Regions from separate parts of the Homo sapiens genome. Here region 1 is linked to region 2. A link means that fine-mapping ties the variant in region 2 to the expression of a gene that starts in the linked region. Tissue or cell type: whole blood. Region 2 holds a variant in brackets; the other region holds the start of a gene. All regions are shown on one strand. Distances are between the middles of the regions.

What was found.
Region 1: it holds the start of RAVER2, and the variant in region 2 is fine-mapped to the expression of RAVER2 in whole blood (TOPMed, PIP above 0.99). The same link has a PIP of 0.9 or more in visceral fat.

What each region holds. Positions count from the first base shown.
Region 1 is chr1:64,741,827-64,747,207 of GRCh38, reverse strand. It overlaps RAVER2 (ribonucleoprotein, PTB binding 2), which reads right to left and starts at 2,133. Exons shown (of 12, transcript NM_001366165.2): 1 at 1,787-2,133. The coding sequence starts at 2,035. RefSeq lists silencers at 2,160-2,359, 2,380-2,479.
Region 2 is chr1:64,773,470-64,778,850 of GRCh38, reverse strand. It overlaps RAVER2 (ribonucleoprotein, PTB binding 2), which reads right to left. Exons shown (of 12, transcript NM_001366165.2): 3 at 759-1,228. Among named protein-coding and RNA genes, the nearest start is that of RAVER2, 31 kb to the right of the region's middle. The variant C/A (reference allele first, on the strand shown) is at 3,063.

The DNA of each region.
Region 1 (5,381 bases), 32 kb after region 2:
AAATATTAGTTTAAGTAGATGAAATCTCAAAAATACAAATCCCAGTGTAATTCTGAGAAAGCTTCTATCACTAATTAAAACTGCTCCTTTTATTAGACCCTTTGATATATTTTTCATGTCTATTGCGAAGGGAAATGAGAAAGATACCAACAGCAAAGCAAGAATAGACAGAACGTCTTCAATTTGGGGTCTAAATATATTTAGAATTAATGCAAGGAATTGTGATAACAAAAACAGCTGACATTCTACAAAGACATTGAGATACTTCTCTATTTCTCTCCTCCTAGACTGTCTATACAAAGAGCTGCTATTTTTTAAATTTGTTTTTTTAAAAAATGCCATCTGCTTCTTCCAAGCCTCCTCCTTCCTGAGCTCCCTTACAGTCCTCTATTTGTATGGGCAGGGGAGGCTGCTTCCAAGAAATCAGTCCATTGCAGGTGTCCTTAACAGGTAGTATCACAAAACATTACCTGACAGATGGGAAGTGGACCATGGCGGAATGGAAAGAGTTGAAAGACAGATGAGATAAACAATACTGACAGACACTGCATTTTGAAACAAAATAGCCCCCCATGCCTACGGGTTATAAGGTTATATGTTCATATTTATTGTGAATGGCTATGTAAGGTCTCATTACATAGTAATGGGGCATTGGTCTCATTATTTTATAAGTCACATGGAAGAACTGCCATGCAATTGTCAATAGCCAGCCCTCTTGCAATTTCATGCATCCGGTTACAGGAGGAACTACAAATCCGCAACTACCAGGACAGCCCACCACACTCGGAGCAGTATATAAATTCAGGTTATATGTGAAACATGTGTGAACATCCAGACAGCTAAGAAATCCTGAAGAATCAAAGAAATGATTTCAAGCTTTTGATAAAACAAAAATATATATGCATAGGAAAAGAGAAAAGAACAACATCCCAGGATAACAATGGTTATCTTCAGGTATCAGAAATATGGGTAATTTCTGTGTCCCCTTTGTGCTTCTCTGTCTTTCCTAGCTCTCCTACAATGAGCATGCAGCTTTTGAAATCAGGGGAAAAAAAAAGTTAAATAGATGCAGAGTTTCTAATCTTAAAAGCAACAGTTAATCTGGATTAAATACACAGAGTAGCTATCTTTAAACCTCATCCAAGTCACTGAGAACAAACCCTCCAGTACTGTACTTGGCGTAGCAGGAGGCGGCTGCAAGGCTCCAAGGAGCGCAGCAATAACTCTATTCTGGGGCCTTAGCAAACTGAGAAGACAGAGTTGTTTCATAGAAACTTGGGCAAGTGCTTCTGCAACAACAGCGAAACTCACTCCCAGCTCTCTCGTGCCCCTGCCCCCTATGGCACTCCCGAGCACCGGGGACTATACGTTGGAGCCCTCGCCCCTGCCAAGGTGCTCCCGAAGCTTCGGCCCCCTCTACCCCCGCTCCCCCCCGCAAAATGTGTGCTCCACAACTCACCTCCACTCTCCTTCACCTCCTACTCCTCTACGGCCGTAGGGGAAGGAAAGACCGGGCCGAACTTGGAGGCAGCAGCCCCTGATTCCCGTGACCTTGGAGAAGCCGCTTCGCCACTCAGAGCCTCAGTTTCCCAATCTGCCCCCCTCCCTGGCAGGGCGTCTGCAGGCTAGAAACCCCAAGAACTCAGTCAAACCGAGGGGCCGCTCTCACCACTCGGCGCCGACCCACTCCCCAGGACCGCTCTGAGGCGCCCCCGATCCCAGCCTGGACACGGAGCGCCGCCCCGCCGCCCCTCGGGACGCGTCGCCCCTATCACCGTCCCAGTACCTGGCAGTTGCTGTCCTGGGGCAGGTTTTTCACCAGGATTTTCCTGCGGTTGCTCAGCTCCCGCTGCATCCGCTGCAGTCGCGCGGCGACCTCCTCAGGGTGCAGCGCGGCGGGCATCGGGTCCGGGGCGCCCTCGTGCGCTTCGGCTGAGGGGCCCTGCCCGCGCAGCCCCGGCCCCGGCCCCAGCCCCGCCGCGCTGCCCAGGCCCGCGCCCCCCTCGCCGCCGCCGTCTCCCGCCGCCGCCGCCATCTTCCCGGGCGCCCAGCGGCTGCGGACTCCTCGGAGGCTCCAGGGGAAGCGGAGAGAGAAAGCGGGAGGAGGCCCGGGCGAGGGCGAGGCGGGCAGAGGCCGCAGAGTGGGCCCAACCGCGGGGAAGGGGGGCGGTGGGAGGAGGGAGTAGAGAGAGGCGGCGCCGCAGCCAGCAGCCTGCTGGCGGGGAGAGGAAACCTGAGGCGCCGAGGAGGAGCCCGAGAACCACCTCGCGGGAACCTCCCCCGCCGGCCCCCGGCCCCGGCGCACAGGCGCGCCCGCGCCCGCCTCTCGCGGGTCCGCAGGCGGGGCCGGGCGCCGCCACCCGGACACCTGTGAGGGCGCGGACGCGCAGGCGGGCTCCCCCTCTCTGCGAGGCCTTCGCGAACGCCCAGGGTCGTTCTCTGGGGGATGCGGCCCCTTCGCGGTGGCTTCGCCGGGAGACTCAGCCCCAGGCGCCTGTCCCCGGCTGGCCCCCCATGTGACGCCGCAGCTCTCCCCCGGCTCCCCTCGAAACTCCCGCGCTGGGGCGGCCCGGGGGCTGCGGGCGCGAACTCGGTCTTCCCACACCCGAGATGGGGCTGGAGGGGTGGCAGGAGGGCGCCTCCTGCAGCCCGGCTGGCTCCCGATGGTAACCCTTCTGTTGGTTCAAGAAGAGCATATTTGGCAAAGTTTGAGTTTACAATGAGATTTTCTGGGGAGTAAAAAGAGGGACATTGTGGGAGAAATGTTATGTATTTGGTAAAACCTGATCGTAATGTATTTTGCTAGCTGTGTATGAGAAAGCCTGTGCCCTTCACCTGTCCCTCTGTCCCTGTCATGCAGTTCCTAAAATGTAAAACCTGGGTAGTTGGGTCTGCAACATGGAAAGTGATGCTGAAACAAAGACTAGAATGGAAAAGGAGCTGTGGCAGAGGGGCTGGAGAATACGCTGCTTGGAACATTATTTTAATTGAAACTTGGAGGGAGAGTTACAGTGTAGAACTATACTTAGTCAAACGGATGTCATCAGATCAAACAATCCAGCAGCCTTTGGCACTAGCCCAGGTGACCATCAGCGAAGGGGACCATGCATCTTAATTGTGTAGCATGCAAGTACACTAGCAAAAAAAAAAAAAAAAAAAAAAAAAAGACTTTAACACTAATTAAAAGAAAAACAAAATGTTTTAAAGATTTTTTAAAAATACTACAAATTCAGTCCTTACCATGTGCTCCCCCCAACCACGCATTTCTAAATGCTTTACATATACATATTTATTTACTCTTCATGATCATTCAATTACGTAGGTTTTGTTTTCCTCACTTTACACGTGAGGAAATGGGATCTGTTCTGATTGATTCCAAAGCCCAGTGTTCTGAATAACATAAAATAATTCACCCGTAATCCGTCCACCCAAAAATAATGGCTGCTAATACTTGTATCATTAAAATGATATTCGGCAATACACCCTTCTATACCACCACTATTCCTGGTAACCAAAGGATAGAAACAACCCAAATGTCCATTTATTGATGAACAGATAGGCAAAGCGTGGGATATATATATGCTAAGAAATATTTTTAGCCATAAAAAGGAATTAAGGACCCCTACAAGGTGGACGAACCTCCAAAGCATTAAATGAAAGAAGCCAGAGACAAAAGGTCATATATTGTATGATTCCATGCGTATAAAATATCAGAATAGGTAGATTCATAGAGCGGAACACAGATTGGTGTTTACCAAGGGCTGGAGGAGAAGGTAATGGGTGCAAACATCCTTATGGAATGATGAAAATCTAGTTTTGGAACTAGACAGAGGGGGCAGTAGCCCAATAATATGAATGTACTAAATAGTCACTGAACTATTCACTTTTAAAATATTAATTTTATTACGTGACTATTACTGCATAAAAATGTTTTTGAATGATATTCTGTAGTTTACAGCTCTGTTTTCTGCTTTTTACAGTATGTCTGCTGAATCCCTTTCTATGCCAATGTATTTGAATACCATGGTTTTTATGGCTGCATATTATTCTGTTGAATTAGAAAATTCACTTATTTCCTAGCATTAGTATTTCCTATTATTTTTATCTATTGTAAACAGCACTGAGTTTAACCCTCTATACATATTTGAAGATCATTACTTTTCCACAGAGTGAAGAACTAGAAGCAAAATTTCTGCATCTAGAGTAAGCATATTTAAGGATTTTTTGTATGTATTTACAAACTTACCTCAGTTTTCCCTATCACAAGCATTGTATAAGAGCACTTATTTCTCTGCTTGCATCCATGATATTCTAGTATTAATGTATCATTTTGCTTTTAAATTGTATTCCTTTGATTTTAAAAGGTATACATTTTAAACTCCAATAAGGCCCTATTTTGTAGAGCTGAGAGACTTTGAAAAGTACATTCTTTGAAGTGAAGAAGCATGAATAGCCTTAGCATAGGCTGTAACCTTGAGTCATTCATTATGTTTCAGAACATGTATTTATCCAAATGAGTACCACCTCCTTGGCAAACATTTATTAAATGTCCCTTATGTGCTAGATAATATATAAAGGCAATAAGAAGACAGAAATAGTAAAATAATGCTCCTGTACAATAGGGGCTAAGTCTCACTGAGAGAAAATTATGCAATGATTATAATTAAATATAATAAATATGCAAACGGATAGTGGTCTGAATATAACTTCAGTGATTGCTTTTGCTCAAAACATTCTCCAAAGTGCTTTTTTTTTTTCTTTTGTGACGGAGTCTTGCTCTGTTGCCCAGGCTGGAGTGCAGTGGCGTGATCTTGGCTCACTGCAACCTCCGCCTCCCAGGTTCAAGCGATTCTCCTGCCTTACCCTCCAGAGTAGCTGGGACTACAGGCGTGTGCCACCAAGCCCAGCTAATTTTTTGTATTTTTAGTAGAGACGGGGTTTCACCATGTTAGCCAGGATGGTCTTGATTTCCTGACCTCATGATCCGCTCGCCTCGGCCTCCCAAAGTGCTGGGATTACAGGCGTGAGCCACCACGCCCAGCCCCAAAGTGCTTTTTTGGAATTGACTTTATAATCTACAGCAAATTATTCTGCATAGTTTATGTGGTAGCAAATACTCACCTCTTAGAGATGGGTTTAATTTTTGGAAATAATTAAATGTTATTTGAGGTTAAGTCTGGTGAATGAATCAGGTGTTGATTATGTTTTGGGAGTTATGATAATGTAATTCCAGTTTTGGCCCCAATGGGGACATGATTACAATGTTATCAAATTATTAAGCCAATTTTATTAAGTGGCTACTTTGAATTGATCCCACTCCTTGTGCAATATTGCTACGTCGTATAGGGTAGTGGCTTTCAAACTTTTTTGACCCAATCTAG
Region 2 (5,381 bases):
GGTAAGAGGAAAAGGAGCGTGGATGGGAAGGGAGTGCGGTAAAAAGGAAAACGGAGAAGGAAGAAATGGAGAGAAACAAGAGAGAAATAATTGATCAGTTGCTATCAAAACTCTGTAAGGAAAAGTGTTATATATAGTATATATATATATATTTATTAGAATGTATTTAATTTTACTATGATAAAGTGCTTGAAAAGTCTCGCCAGTGTTATCAGTTTTCAGGATCTTCTCTAGATGTCTCACCTACCGTGACCACATTAAGATAGAACTACACATTCCTTTTAAACTTCATAGTACTTTTCTATCCTCCATTATATCACTCTTCATATAGGATTTGCAATTATTTGCTTACTTGTCCGTCTCTTCTACAAAATTGTGAGGTATTGAGATAGAGTATCTTTCCATTCTCTGCCTTTCTGACACTTGGCATAGTGTCTGGTACACAGAAGATGGTAAATAAAAGTTGGATAGATAAATGGATTGATGGAAAAATGGTGGGACGAATGGATGGAATGAGGTGAATGAGTAAGCAATGGATTTGCTAAGGCATACTTAACTACATAACAACATACTTTGGCCCATAAACAGAGGAACTGATTTAAAATTTCCCATGAGATCAAAGTCTTCCCTACAGAATGATGCAGAATTAAATTTCCATTGTGTTAATCACACAGGTATGATAAATTTGTGAGTGTATGTAGATTAGATACATATGTATATATTTTAAAATATTTCAATAATCTCTTAAAAATACATACCTGGCAAAACACAGGTTTATGGACACTGGAAAAAATTTGCAACAGCTCTTCTGAATCCCTGTAGTCACTGGGGAGTTTATCAATACAAAGGCACTTAGAATGAATGAGCTCTGAAGCCAATAGATTAACATCCATCCATTGTGCAAAGAGTGCTGATGCTCCCAACTGTCTACCCAATAGCTCCAGTCTAGCCTTTGCAGCAAAGTCCTTTTTCATGTATTCCACAAATCCATAGCCTTTGGAATGGCCAGTAACTTCACTATAGACCAGAAAACATCTCTCAATATTTCCATAAGCACGAACAAGTTCTTCAAACTCTTCTGATGTAAAAGAAATGGGCACGTTGGTAATACACAACAAAGCATCTGTTGGCTGAAGCTGGACTATTAAGTCTTTTCCTCTAAAAGAATATTGATGAAACATCTGAATTGCGTTCTGGGCTTGTTCCCCATTCAATAAGGTAACAAAAGCTGGAAGATAACGAAATGAATTAAAGAGTTTTCAAATTGTTTGAAAACACAGTAAGAAATATATCTTACTTCTGTGACTTGGTACACATAAACATACACCTTTTTTCTGAAACAAAATTATAAGTTAATACCCCTACTATATGCAATGCATTGTGACATTTTTTATTCTATTTCAGTGCGTTTTTTAATGCTGACACCTCCATTAAACTAATTTCATCAACAGTAACCCAAAATAGAAAGTACAGGGATTATATTAGGAGTTTCACTGTAAAATCCTATGATATTCTGGGGGGTTTTTGGTAGTCTTTTCCAATCACACACATATTTGATTTCCTCCCACCCAAAAACCTGTGATATAAAATTTTATGAAGACTTTATATAAAACTTAACTGAAATAAAAATGAAGTTACAAAATCTTTCTTTCTTCCTAGAAAGAGTTCTAAAAGAGCCTATTTGACAGCAAGGACCTGAAAAAATGAAGGTACAGCAAAAACATCAAAATGCATAAAGGAGGCCATTTCTTTCTCCAATTCATGTATATATTTCCTTAATATCAGATTAGATTGACATAACACACAGACACTTTTAATTTGGTACACTTTTGATGAATAATATCAAATGAAAAGGTTACAGGATTCTGATCTTAAGACAAGATCTTGAATATTCATAAAACAATAAAAATAGTCTGCCCTGTCTAGCTAATGAAGTTGTTCCAGCATCAAGCAACAAATGCATATGACGGCTTATATAACTGGAAACATAATACAAATATAACATTCTAAATCAATGAAATATTATGTACATTCATATCTGGTAAAATTACATTTTAACCATATCAATTTGTTTACCTTTTGCAATAAAAGAATATAAAAGGTTTTGAGCAATTTTATAGGAAAAGTTTAAAGCCCCCATTAAAAAATACATAGCAATCCACAAATTACAAATAAATTGCTCTCTACAAGTTCCTCTCCCTCTCCCTCTGAAATATATAGTGAAGTTACTCCATATGAACATTTAATTTACCCAAATTCAATTAGAACTGCATGACAATATGTTGTATACAGCAAATATGGATATAGCAAGAGACAGAGAAGTAATTTAAGTAGCATGGGCAATTCTGCCTGTCATTTCACTAAACTTCTCTGCCCTCAATTGGTCTTAGTGCCATGCGGCTCTCAGAGTAAGAGCATCTCACCACACTAAGTGTGATGCTAACATTTAAAGAAACACATTTTTCATTTAACACATGTCCCACACGCAAGAAAACTATTGCCAAAGGAACAGCTAACTGTTCCAACATCTCTTCCAAAAAATGAGAAAAAATGGCTTTACTGCCCTTATTAAAAGGCTATCTCTTAGTTTCTAACAATCTTTTTTAAAAGGCTTGATTTTGATTCTATGTCTTTTTTCCTTATGCTGACATAAAATACAATTTAATTCTGTTTCCCTAAAACAAACGAGCCAACAACAGTTTGTAAATACTGGTTATATTCTCGTATCAGCCCATAAAATCTCAGGTCATATTTAACTTGAATTCTCAGGGCATTTGAACCTGTTAATCATTCCCTTTCTTAACTTTCTTTCCTTTTTTTTTTTTTTTTTTGAGACAAGAGTCTGACTCTGTTGCCCAGGCTGGAGTGCAGTGGTGCCGATCTCAGCTCATCACAACCTCTGCCTCCCAGGTTCAAGCAATTCTCTTGCTTCAGCCTCTCAAGTAGCTGGGACTACAGGGCCTGCCACCACGCCTGGCTAATTTTTGTATTTTTAGTAGAGATGGGGTTGCGCCATGTTGGTCAAGCTGGTCTCGAACTCCTGACCTCAAGTGATCCACCAA[C/A]CTCAACCTCCCAAAGTGCTGGGATTATAGGCCTGAGCCACTGCACCAGGCCTTTCTTAACTTTCTTGATGTACTCTTTCTTGATTTGCTTCATAACTGTCCAAGCTCTTTCTTCTATTTCCTTTGCTAGCTCTTTCTCCTCCACTCACAGCTGTAAGGTAGTACTCCTTGGGGTGCCTTCCTGGCAGAGTCACACACAGTAACACCTGTGTGGCCACATGTGTTACTCAATGTGTGGCCGCTGAATATCTTTTTTCGCACTCTACACCCTCTTCCTCTGGGGGCAATCACACCCATTCCCATGTATTCCGTATCATGTGCCAGATTCCAAGTTTGGCACTGGAAATGTTTTGGTGAACAGAACAGGTAAGATCCCTTTCAACACAGAGCTCACAATCTAATAGGGGAAGCTAGACATTTAACAAAGAGTTACAAATGTGGTGTCCCCAAAGGGGAAGTATGAGGGGCTATGAAAGCAATGAGCAAAATAATCTCATCTGAGGACTTGCAAAAGGCCTCCCATACCATTATACTCCCCAATCTATCTTTCTAACCTTTAGTGCCACATATATCTTCATATTGACTCCCAAACATAACTCACGATTTTCATCCTATCTCTGCCAAAAAACAAAACGATTAGGAAAAGAGGAAGTCAAATTCTCTCTGTTTGCAGATGACATGATTGTATATTTAGAAAACCCCATCATCTCAGCCCACAATCTCCTTAAGCTGATAAGCAACTTCAGCAACGTCTCAGGATACAAAATCAATGTGGGAAAATCACAAGCGTTCCTATACACCAATAACAGACAAACAGAGAGCCAAATCATGAGGAAACTCCCATTCACAATTCCTACAAAGAGAATAAAATACCTAGGAATACAATTTACAAGGGATGTGAAGGACCCCTTCAAGGAAAACTACAAACCACTGCTCAATGAAATAAGAGAGGACACAAACAAATGGAAAAACATTCCATGCTCATGGATAGGAAGAATCAATATCGTAAAAATGGCCATACTGCCCAAAGTAATTTATAGATTCAATGCTATCCCCATCAAACTACCAATGACTTTCTTCACAGAATTGGAAAAAACTACTTTAAATTTCATATGGAACCAAAAAAGAGCCAACACAGCCAAGACAATCCTAAGCAAAGAGAACAAAGCTGGAGGCATCAGGCTACCTGACTTCAAACTACACTACAAGGCCACAGTAGCCAAAACAGCATGGTACTGGTACCAAAACAGATACACAGACCAATGGAACAGAACAGAGGCCTCAGAAATAACACCACACATCTACAACCATCTGATCTTTGACAAACCTGCCAAAACAAGCGATGGGGAAAGGATTCCCTATTTAAGAAAGGGATTGGGAAAACTGGCTAGCCATAAGCAGAAAGCTGAAACTGGATCCCTTTCTTACACCTTATACAAAAATTAACTCAAGGTGGATTAAAGACTTAAACGTAAGACCTAAAACCATAAAAACCCTAGAAGAAAACCTAGGCAATACCATTCAGGACATAGGCATGGGCAAAGACTTCATGACTAAAACACCAAAAGCAATGGCAACAAAAGCCAAAATTGACAAATGGGGTCTAATTAAACTAAAGAGCTTCTGCACAGCAAAAGATTATCAGCAGAGTGAATAGGCAACGTACAGAACGGGAGAAAATTTTTGCAATCTATCCATCTGACAAAGGGCTAATATATCCAGAATCTACAAAAAACTCAAACAAATTTACAAGAAAAAAACAACCCCATCAAAAAGTGGGCAAAGGGTATGAACAGACACTTCTCAAAAGAAGACATTTATGCAGCCAACAGACACATGAAAAAATGCTCATCATCACTGGTCATCAGAGAAATGCAAATCAAAACCACAATGAGATACCATCTCACACCAGTTAGAATGGCGATCATTAAAAAGTCAGGAAACAACAGATGCTGGAGAGAATGTGGAGAAATAAGAATGCTTTTACACTGTTGGTGGGAGTGTAAATTAGTTCAACCACTGTGGAATACAGTGTGGCGATTCCTCAAGGATCTAGAACTAGTAATATCATTTAACCTAGCTATCCCATTACTGGGTATATACCCAAAGGATTATAAATCATTCTACTATAAAGACACATGTGCACGTATGTTTATTGCAGCACTATTTACAATAGCAAAGACTTGGATCCAACCCAAATGTCCAACAATGATAGACTGGATTAAGAAAATGTGGCACATATACACCATGGAATACTATGCAGCCATAAAAAAGGATGAGTTCATGTCCTTTGCAGGGACATGGATGAAGCTGGAAACC